Linked DNA regions of Homo sapiens. Changing the gene in region 3 together with the main gene of any one other region gives a genetic interaction. Each region holds a gene or a part of one and is shown on either strand. Other genes may lie near its edges.

Region 1 (3,780 bases), on a different chromosome or scaffold from region 3:
GCTGGGGTCTCTGCTCCCCGGCCCAGTCCACTCCCACGGCCCCATGCCACCCATACCTGGGATGGCATCAGGGGACAGCTTGCCAGTGGCCAGCATGATGTCGCGGAAGTTGAGGGAGGCGTAGTAGACCGTGCAGAGCTGGGCGCCAGGGCAGGTGGGCTGGGCATGGCGCAGCGAGGAGCAGACCCAGCGGATGGAGGACAGGTCCCCCCGGGTGAGGGTGCTCACAAAGGCATGTGCCGTCGGCTCCTCAGGCTTGTCTAGGGAAACAGGGAGGTGGGGCTGCTGCGGGGCCTTCGGGTGCAGTCTCCCGGGAGGGGCAGGGCAGTGTCGGGGGCTCACCCTCCTCCAGCAGGAAGTGGCGGAAAGCCCCCCAGGCCCCGTCGCGGTAGACGTTCATCACCAGGTCTCCCTGCAACACCTTCTGCAGTTCTGCGGAGCCCGGGTCCACCTCCGGGACGTGGGAGGTGCTGCTGAGGTTGGAGAGCAGCACACACCTGGGGGCAGAGGCGGGGAGCTCAGGCTGGGGATGGGGAGGCTGGTGGGGAAGGGGAAGTGGTGAGGGGCCGTGCTCCTACCGGAGGCGGTTCCCGCCGGGCTCTCGGCGGAGACAGTTCACCAAGCCCACCACGCCCGAGGTGGCACAGTTGATGGCCTTCAGCCACACAGGCCGGGAAGAGTCTTCGTCAGCCAGGATGCCCTACAGCGGGTCGGGGAGGGTCAGGCCACACTCGGCAAGTTGGGAGGTGGGGTGGGGCCTGGAGGTGGGGCAGGGCCTGACCTTCAGAGACTCCACCCAGCGGAAGCTGGTATCGTCCACCGGCAGGAAGATGGGGCTGTCCTGCGGGGTGGGCCGGCGGCACAGGAAGAGCGTGGAGCCGTAGAAGGACTTCTTCAGGCCCACCAGGCGCAGCGACACCCTGGAGAAGAGGCTCTCCCACGCGTCCTGTGGGGGCGGTGGTCAGCACCCTGCCCGCCTGGCCCTCACCCGGCCCCCACCCTGTCCCCCTGCCCGGCGGCCGCACCTGGCTCAGGATGCCCTGGCCATACTGCGGCTCAGTGGAGGTGAGGAAGGCCACGATGTCCCCGAGGGGGTGCCCCCGGAGCAGTGTGTGCAGGAGCAGAAAGCCCCCTTCTCTCAGGGCAGCCACCATGTTGCTGAGAGCTGAGGCCGGGTCCCCGAGGGCAGCCACAGCACAGTTGCACACCAGGAGGTCGGCGCTGCCCAGGGCGCTGGGGGCAGGGTCTGCGGGATCCCACTGGCCCTGGGCAACGTCGTGCTGCTGCAGCTCGGCCTGGGCAGCCTCCAGGGCCTGGGGGTGGCGGTCGGTGGCCGTGTAGCTCAGCTGCAGCAGGGGATGGGGGCTGAGCAGGCCTGGGATGCGGGAATACAGGTGACCGTGGCCAGCCAGCACCTGTAGGGGGTGAATTCTGGAATCAGCCCCACACCAGGCAGGTGCCCCTGACCTGGGGCTGGGCAAAATGTCCATGAGGCCTCAGTCTGGCAGAAAGGCTTCCCCGTCAACCTGATGACGGTGCCAGCCATGGGCACGCATGGATGCCACTGGTCTTGTCCCTGGGGTCCTGCCTAGGCTGCACCTCTTGGAGCCCACGGGCGGACCCTCCACGGTGGCTGTGTGGACCGCACAGGACACGTGCACAGAACCACACAGGGAACTGGCCGGCCCCACCCACCGCCCAGGGCCCGCCCCGTGTCTGTGCTGTCTCCTGCAACTGATGTCAGGGTGGGTCCTACCATGTCCGGGGCAGAGGCCTGGCTGCCCAGGAGGCACCCACCTCCACCACCTTCATCTTCAGGCTGGGCATGTTCTCCACGGCAGTGTCCAGGCAGGCCTTGAGTGCCGGGGAGTCCAGGAGGCCGCTGAGCAGAGGGTCCTCTGGCAGCTTGGGCCTCTCCTGGGCCAGCACCTGCGCCAGCTCCAGCTGCAGGTTCCCGTTGAGCTGAAGCCTGCAGGCAGCCGACAACAGCCGGGGCAGTTCCTGCTGTGAGGGGTCCCGGGGGATCTGGGCCCCATCCAGTCCGGGCACCACCATCTTCAGCCCCTGCTGGGTCACCTTGGTCTGCAGTGCCTGCACCAGCCCTGGGGAGGGAGGGAGGCAGGCCTGGTGTTCCCAAAGCCCCAGGGCATCTGCCTGGCATGGGCTCTCAGACCCACTCTGTCCTTCTGGGGCCACCACCCCGCTCTGCCCACAGGATGAGAAATAGCTGAGGGTTGAGGAAGGGGCTGCCCACCACTGGGAGGCTGACTCCTGCCCACTGTGGACGCAGTGAGGGGCCGCATTCAGCTGCAGGGGCTACTCTGTGCCTAGCCAAGGTGTGACCTTAGGCTGAATCTGTCATCTTTGCCCCCAAGTACCCTTTCAAGACTGAGGAACAGTGACCAGGGACGAGGAAGGCTGGGGGCTGGGGGAGGGAGGGAGGCCGCCATCGTGAGCTCCGGCCGGAGGGTTGGGCTAGGGTTGCTGACCCCAAAGGGGGCCCCGTGGAGAAGCAAGTCTGGGGTCAACGTGAGGGGAGGCGATCGCTCCTCATCGCCAGAGGTGTCCGAAGCCAGCAGGGCTGGGACCTCACCCTTGCACAGTTGCAGCTCCTCCTGCAGGGCAGCGCGCTCAGACAGGCACCCCTCCTCCGTGTGGGGAGTGAAGCAAAACTTCTCCAGGATGGGCACCTGCTGCTCCTGCTGCCGCCGCGGGGCCGACTCAGTGTGGAGCCCGGAGATGTGGACGCCTCCGGCCACTGTGACCCTCAGCCACCTGCTCACCACCACGTCAGCCACTGTGGGGACAGGCTGGGTGAGTGCGGCATACTTGGGTGGGGGCACTGGGCTGGGGCTGGGGCGGGGCTACCTTGGGCCTTGTCCTGCAGTGTGTACAGCTTCTGCCTGTGGGTGGCAGGGTCGATGTGGATGGCGGTGACACGGGTGGGCAGGTACAGGCCGTGCTTGGCCGAGCCCAGGATGGACATCTGCAGCATGGTGTCCATGAAGCTCACCCAGTTATCCTTCCACAGCAGCCTCCCCGAGTCACCTGCACACAGGGCCTGGTTGGTGCTGTGGAACTCCCAGGTCCCTGGGGCCACCTCCCAGAGCCCACCGGGCCCCTCTGCTCCCTCCCAAGCTGCATGCCTAGCTGTGGGTGCCCTCTGTGGTCCCCACAATGACGACCGCCCTCCCCGGTGGCTTGGGCAGCAGTGTAGTCAGTACCCACCTTCCAGGCTGGCCTCCAGGATGCCCTGGAAATGAGGGCCGTAGTCGTAGCCACGCAGACGCAGCTCCTTGTAAACTTCAGCCTGGGCCAGGAAGAGGGGCTCCGTGGGGTTGGGGGTGGGGCTTTCCGGGTGGTCGAAGAGCCTGGGGTCAGGGTCATCCCACTGGTACACCTTCCCTGTGGAAAGGGAGGTGCGGAAGGGCCTGAGGACGGGCGGCATGGCCAGCGGGCACAGCCTCCGCAGCTCCCGTGCCACCGGCCCTGCTTACCACTCACTACCAGGTTGCCGTTCTCTGACACCTCGAAGGCACGGGAGGCCTCCAGGAGCCGTACCTCCAGGGACACTGTCCCTGCAGAGCGGGAGAGTTGGAGATCAGAGGGCAGCACCCGCCCCCCAGCTACCCCCGCCTTGGTCCTGGGGTACCCCTCACCAGTCTTGGGCAGGATGGTGGCCTGGTGCAGCACCACATCCTCAAACACCACAGGCAGCTGCTCGACGCCCAGGCCCAGGGCGCGGGCCAGCGTCTTCCACACTATGCTCAGGTAGCCAGT
Region 2 (3,780 bases), on a different chromosome or scaffold from region 3:
TTATTGTTTTCCTGAACTTTGGGAGTTTTAAGCAATGATACAGTTGAAGGGACTGTTTATAATTTTCACATGTTTAAGTTGTGAGGCTTTAAAACTTAAATATAAGGCTTTGTCTAGGAAGAAAATGATCTTTACCTTCAATAAATTTATAATGTAGCACTAATCCAGTATAGATTGGAGACTGAATGCATTCTTACTCTTAGGGTTCATACCTCTAATTCATGTGGTTAAGACAGTGTTGTGGTGAAGTAATAGGGCCCCTTGAAAGAATCTACAGAAACATAAATTATACTGAGTTGTGCTGTACTGGTTTGTGAGAACATCAGTGTATTAAGGAGAATGGTAGTTTAATTTGAATATTTAAAGAAAGTAATTTGAATGGTTCTAGTACTAGGGCCATTATTAACTAGTAACATAGATTAGTGACTTCAACTGGGTGTCCTTATTATCTGATTTGTCTGAAGTGAAAACTGTTAAGGTGCTCTTTTAAAATGTATTTGGAAACACCATAGTTAGGGTAAATACAATGTCACAATTCACTCTTGCATATTATTTGCTTAGCCAAATTTATGAATTCTAAGTTAGGCCAAATTGAAGGTTTTGGAGTTTTACATTGTGGGTGAGTCTAAATTCATGCGTTTGGCAAGCACAAGGACATGGGAAAAGAATCTGGTATTTTGAGGCAGGCTTGAGTTTATAATGAAAGCAAACTCAGTTCCTCTTCATGTCCTATGTATTTAAGAGAGGACAGTTTTCCCTCAGTTTTTTTCCCCTTCCTTACCCCTACCCCCATCAAATACAGCCCAACCAAATAACTGTGTTCTTAATTTAAAGGAAAATGGCAGACTTGACACCTGCTGAATATTTCGTGTAGACAGAGTATGACAATGAATGAGATCCCCAGTCATTGCCCTTGTAAGCCTGGGAACCCAGTTTAGTGGGAGAGACTAATGTAAACAGCTTTAATCAAAAGTATATCAATTGGCCGGGTGCTGTGGCTCACACCTATAATGCCGGCACTTTGGGAGGCCAAGGTGGGTGGATCACTTGAGGTCAGGAGTTTGAGACCACCCTGGCCAACATGGTGAAACCCTCTCCCTATTTAAAGAAAAAAAAGTAAGGCATATCAATTTATGGTTATCAAATAGGTTTTTTTTTTTTTTTTTGAGACTGAGTGTCGCTCTATAGCCCAGGCTGGAGTGTAGTGCTCACTGCGACTTCCGCCTCCTGGGTTCAAATGATTCTCGTGCCTCAGTCTCCCGAGTAGCTGGGATTGTAGGCGCCTGCCACCACGCCCAGCTAATTTTTGTATTTGTAGTAGAGATGGGGTTTCATCATGTTGGCGAAGCTGGTCTTGAACACCTGACCTCAAGTGATCTGCCTTAGCCTCACTGCTTGCCCCTAAGTGGTGGGATTGCAGGTGTGAGCCACTGTGCTGGCCTCAAATAGTTTTTATCAAAGCTACTTCAATTAGTGGTTAGCAAGGCTTAAAGACTAATTCAGTGCTTTATTTTGACACTTGTTCGCAACATGTTGCTTTTTTTCCTGTGTCCTATGGGACCTAGTCATCTGTATGTTAGATTCACAGAGGAATTAAAGAGATAAACATGCATGTGCTAAATTGATTTCTGTCTTGCTTTGTTATCCTATAATAATGTTATAAAATAACATTATTATAAATTTCCCAAGAGTTGAATTAATACCAACAACTGGTAACTCGTTTTTATGTAAACAGCATACTTGAGACCAGAAATCTTCTGGATCACTTTGTGGATCTCTGCCTGCCATTCTCATTGGTCCTCTGTTCATCCCTTTTCTAGAGCTTCTCCTTACCTTGGCTTCTCTTCTGCCACATTGGCCTGCCTGACCTGTCCTCAGGCCCTGTCACTGCCCTAGATTACGTTTCCCATGTCTTCACTTCCAAATCTGGACCTCTCGTTTAGACCTTCTCTCCTGACTGCCAGATGGCATGTCCCACTGTCCTCCGGTGTACATCTCCAAATTGTCCCACAGGCATTTATCTCAGATGAAGTTTCAGGTTGGACTCATTCTTCTGCCCCAACAGCAGAATGACTCATTGAGCCATTGAGCCATTCAGCACATTCTCTATATGGCAGATTCGGTGCTGTCTCTGGAAATACATAAACATAGAGCGATTCCTTTTTCTGTTGAGGCAAAATATGGATTTGGTTAATTTCTATTCACGTCATGAATGTGGTATGTGGAAGGTCTTCTGAGAGCAGAAAGGGATGTTTCACAGCACAGCCCGGCTGTGTGGTGCTCAGGGCAGGCCCTCTGGAGGAGGTGAGCCTGGGCTCTTGGCCTAATGTTTCAGCTCTCACTTTCCAGTCCTGAGCTGTTGTTGCCAGTCCATCTTTCATGAGACCATTGGAGTGATCTTTCTGGTCTTGTCACTTCATGGTTTAAAGTTTCCCTGGGCCTACACAGTGAAGTCCAAATTCAGCATGGTATTACAAGACCCTTATGATCCAGTCTTAACCATTGGTTAGGTATCCTACCCATACTGTTTATCTCTTGAATACCTCTATGCTCTTTGACAAGTCCAGCCCCTACGTGTTCATACCTCACTTCTGTGACACAGCCTTGCTTCAGGGCTCCCAATCTCTGTAGCCTCCCTGAACTGTGCATTTGCTCTGCTGCTTGATTTGTTTCTGTGACTGTTCCATTCTCCTCGGGACACATAGCAGGGACCTTGTCTTGGTCCTTTTTTTTTTGGCTTTAACAGAACATAGCAAAGAACCTGACATAGGTGTAGTCTGAGTTTACCACTGGGGTTATCACAGAGGTCTGCTAAGTGAATACAACACAGTGGGGACCCAGAACCTCTAGAAAGGGTTGAGGATTACAATCCCCAGATAGCTACAATCAGGGAATAATGTAACCTGTTTGCCTAGGGTGCTACATGGTAATCTTGAATTAGAACAACTGAGACTTCCATGGGACCTTAGGGTGATAACCATTAAACCTACTCTTTCAGTGTTTACTTTGTAAAAGCATCACACTAAGGAGGTTGTCATTTAATCCTCACACCTACCCTGGGTTATTAACACTGTTGATGAAGAAAGCCTTACTTGGCTAAGATATGGAGCAGGTTAGTAAGTGGTAGAATAGATACTCCAGTCCTGTCTCCAAAATGCAAATTTTTTTTTAATTAAAAAAATTTCTAATTTTCAATATATTTATTTTTGATTTTTTATTTTCTGTAGAGTTGGAGTTTCGCCATGTTGTCCAGGCTGGTCTCGAACTCATGGGTGCAAGCCATACCCCAACCTCGACCTTCCGAAGTGTTGGGAATACTGGCATGAGCCATGATGCCTGGCCTCAAAATGCATACCCTTAACCACTATGCTCTCACATTTTTAGATGTGGGATTTCTGTCTACGACGTCGCCCCCACTAAGACCTAGGGCTTAGGTGTCGAGGTGGGAAAGATCTTGAGGCTTTTCTTCTCAAAATTAATCAGAAACGATGTGAATTTTATATCTCTTTCTGAGGTTTTCCCCATAAGCTAATCGGGATTAGTAGACTTAAAGGTGAATGACCAACTGTATCCCTGGTTCACTGGTTAGGAAGAGTACATAGTCTTTGTGTATAGGCTATTTTCCTCGGTAACCTTGGGCAACATGCTTGACTTCTCCAAGCCAGTCTCCTTTGTGAAAGGTGATATACTTACAAGACATTATATTAAATGAGAACCCAGGCAGGTTACCTACCCTACCATGACACTGGAAGTATTCTTTGCCTTAAGAAAAGGAGAATT
Region 3 (3,500 bases):
TTTTTAACTTTCTCTTCCTATTTTTTAAAGAGTAAGTGCTCCCCCTAGTGATATGAAAGAGTGAGATTTCTGCAGTCAAATCAGTGGAAATAAACAAGTGTTGTACCATGTGAGAACTCTGGCGTACTTCTTCTTGGGTTCAAGACTAGGATAGGGTAGCAATGAGACAGTAAGGAAGAACTCCAGTGATTAAAGCTTTGCTACTCACCTAGCTTTTGGTTGTTTTTCTTTTAAAATACCTATCTTATTTGCTATCCCAAAGTGGAAAGTTGTGTGAAAAACTCCTTTGAATGCCCTCCTTTTTATGACGTGTGTCCCCACATTTACTTTCATTATTGTCTTGATTTCTGTTTTTGATGCTTGCTTCCTTTCAGTATTGTTTTAGTGAGGCATGGTTTGTGTGTGTGTGTATGTGTGTGTGTGAGAGAGAGAAAGAGAGAGGAAGAGAGAGAGATCACATTTGTGTTGTGCATGCATGTGTATATGTGTATATAGGTGGTCTTGAGTGACCAGTATTGCTTGCTCAGTTTTCTTTAGTGATACACAGGAGAGGACTTTTGCATTCTTCACAATTAAGATAGATAGTTGGTTAGTTAATACAAACAATTGGCTAGAATCATAAAATCACAAATGTTACATATTTTCAACATCAAATTTTAATGTAAACTATAAATATATTTTCATTTGCCAATCTTTTGATGTGAAGTCATGATCTTTTCTTTGAGTATGGGTCTGCTGATTAAAGTTTGAAATTCTCCTTCTTTCATAAATCACCCCATAATGCATTTACAATATCAAGTTCAGTTTTCTTTAAAGTTGAACAAGAATTTAAATTTGCTTATGAAGCAGTCTGAAAGCATGGTTCTAGGTTTTTATGATTTTCTACTTGTGTTTTAAAAGTTTTGTTCTTCCATACTTTAGTAGCAATTTTCTTTGACAACTTATGTTTATTGAATTTAGTTTTTCTAAAACTTTTAACTTAATTTGATAGAAACAAATATATGTGTTCATATATTTAGGTAATATTTAATTAAATTATGTAATTGCAACAGCAAGTGAAATTTGAAATAAACTAGTTTGAGAACATACTTAGCTGACTCTTAATTACAACTCAATTAGTGAGAGTGGAATTCTGTGGGCTTTCCAGAGAGTAGCCTATTAGCGACGAGCTTTCAGCTTGCAGTTGCAAGGGAGTAGAGAGTATTGCTTAATCAGGTCTTTTAACATCTTGTCACATCTCAAACACCTTTGTTTGAGAGAGATACATACCATCTCCTTTCCAAGTGTGCTCTGTGATGATCTTGCTTCATTCTTGATATTCCTCTCCTGTCTCTCTGTTGTATTTGTTCCCATGGTCTGGTTTGTTCTTTGTTTGCCTTTATAGATTTAAAAAAGTAATGAATTTGGAATATCAGTTAAAGAAGTACTTTCATAAGCTTATATTTTATTTTTTAACGCGAACTTTGAATGTATGCAGAAATGTGCACAAATCATAATACAGCTTGTTGAATTTTCACAAGTGAACACACCCATGTACCCAGTATCCAGATTAAAGCATAGAACATTATCATGTTAGCTTAGTAGCTTCCTTTGTATTCCTGTCCCAGTGCCCTGTACTTCCTGCAAAGGGTAGCTACTCTACTGACTTCTAACACTATACATTGATTTACCTGATTTTGCACTTTATATAGTAGGAAGCACTCTGTGTACCTTTTGTGTATAGCTGCTTTTGCTCAATATTTTAAAAAAGAGATTTATCCATATTGTTGCATGGAGCAACAGATTGTTCATTCTCATTGCTGTATACTATTCCATTATGTGAATATACCACAATTTATTCATTCCACTGCTGATGGACATTTGGCTTAGTTTTCAGTTTGGGGCTTTTATGAATAATGCTGTTATAATCATTCATGTACAAGTCTCTTGGTGAATACATGTGTGCATTTCTTTTAGGTATCATTATAGAAGCCGAATTGTTGGTCATAGCATATGCCTATGTCCAGCTTAAAAGATATTGCTAAACAGTTTTCCAGTGTGCTTTGACCAGTTTGTACTTCTGCCAGCAGTGTCTGAGTGGTCCCAGCCTATATATTTTTAGGAAACAAAAGTGACAAACTTCTAGTACATAATTTCTAGCATATCAATAATGAACTTCCTAGTTAATAGCCTTTAGATGTTTCGTTTCTCTGTGCATGACTTACACCATCTAACTTTTTTTCTTTCCCTACAAGAAGGGGAGTTCTATAAGGTTTTACTTGGCTACACTGTTGGTTAGAAGACTCTCAGTTATTAGATTGTCTCTTAGGAGATGAGGCATGTTGTGTGATTAGTTTTTCTTAGAAAAAGAGAAACAAAGTGGATATTGGAGTCTACCTGCTTATGGGAGTGCTATTCTCAGTCCCTGTGCTTTTAATGATTCTAAGAGGTCCTCATTAAAAAAATTGCCCACGTTGTCATCCTCTGTGAAGATGATGTACAAATGACTTGCCTTTCTACATGGAAATTGCAGGCATCTTCATTTGTATTTTTTAGGACAGAGGGATCACTGTTTAATATATTAAGAGCAGTATATAATGGATTCCAGCTGTATACCTTCCATTATTGCTAAGGCCAAATTACTGAAGTCTTTGGCAAACCTTGAATTCCCTGTTTTGGAAAAGTACGAGGTCTGTGAATATAAAGGGTTTGGAGATTGTTTCCCATCTCTGTTTCCTTGTCTTTTGTTATGAGAACAACCATGGGAGGCATCTGTGTCTTTTTTCCTACTTACCAAACACTCAGAAAGGTTTCTTTGTGACATCTGTAGAAAGCAGAATGCTCTCATGGGATCTATAGGAAAAGCTTGAAAATAAAAAGTGAAATATTTTCATCAATGTAAAAGTGACCCATATAATGTCATTGAAAAGACCTCTGAAAGCGTAATAACATAATGTGATGTGAGAGAATTGAGCAAAGTTTTCATCTTGTAAGCATAGTGTTTTATTACTTTAAAAAAGCCTATACAATTCTGTAGTACAAAATAATTTCATAATATAGAATAATAAAATACATTAAAATTAATCTATAAAATAAGATAATATATAAAGCAATATAAAATAAATGAGTATACATATTTGAATAATGTGTCAAGTTATGTAACTATCAATGTAATCATATTATAACATATGTATATCATAAATGTATATGCATGTGTGTGTATATGTTTATTTTCATGAGCAATTAATTCATCCCAACGCTCCCTCTTGAGAAGTAGCTAAGTGAGACACAGGGACATAGGAAGATTGAGTTCTATCATAAATTATAACTAATTAGTTCCCAGTAAAAAGTGGGAGTTGTACTGCTTGGTTCCCAGTCTTGTAATGTTGAATTGTGCAGTAGTTTCTTAGTATTGACATTAAGAATTAGAGGGCTCACCATACCAAGTGGTAAAATTCATAGCTTTCTTTTTTTTTTGAGACACGGTCTTGCTCTGTTCCCAGGCTGGAGTGCAGTGGTGC

What was found. Genes that interact genetically often act in the same process or in processes that back each other up.
Region 1: changes in PPP4R4 (region 3) and FASN together harm fitness less than expected from each alone (positive genetic interaction), as found in Homo sapiens cells (one large-scale study listed by BioGRID).
Region 2: changes in PPP4R4 (region 3) and HAPSTR1 together harm fitness less than expected from each alone (positive genetic interaction), as found in Homo sapiens cells (one large-scale study listed by BioGRID).

What each region holds. Positions count from the first base shown.
Region 1 is NC_000017.11:82,084,457-82,088,236, forward strand, and holds part of FASN (fatty acid synthase), read right to left. Parts: coding exon 3,660-3,780; intron 3,579-3,659; coding exon 3,498-3,578; intron 3,406-3,497; coding exon 3,229-3,405; intron 3,049-3,228; coding exon 2,869-3,048; intron 2,798-2,868; coding exon 2,594-2,797; intron 2,103-2,593; coding exon 1,798-2,102; intron 1,416-1,797; coding exon 1,026-1,415; intron 947-1,025; coding exon 782-946; intron 701-781; coding exon 579-700; intron 498-578; coding exon 343-497; intron 261-342; coding exon 57-260; intron 1-56. UniProt on the Homo sapiens protein: Fatty acid synthetase is a multifunctional enzyme that catalyzes the de novo biosynthesis of long-chain saturated fatty acids starting from acetyl-CoA and malonyl-CoA in the presence of NADPH.
Region 2 is NC_000016.10:9,105,144-9,108,923, forward strand, and holds part of HAPSTR1 (HUWE1-associated protein modifying stress responses 1), read left to right. Parts: exon of another isoform or gene 1-1,621; intron 1,622-3,227; coding exon of another isoform or gene 3,228-3,361; exon of another isoform or gene 3,362-3,780. UniProt on the Homo sapiens protein: Acts as a central player within a network of stress response pathways promoting cellular adaptability. The E3 ligase HUWE1 assists HAPSTR1 in controlling stress signaling and in turn, HUWE1 feeds back to promote the degradation of HAPSTR1.
Region 3 is NC_000014.9:94,180,822-94,184,321, forward strand, and holds part of PPP4R4 (serine/threonine-protein phosphatase 4 regulatory subunit 4), read left to right. Parts: intron 1-3,500. UniProt on the Homo sapiens protein: Putative regulatory subunit of serine/threonine-protein phosphatase 4.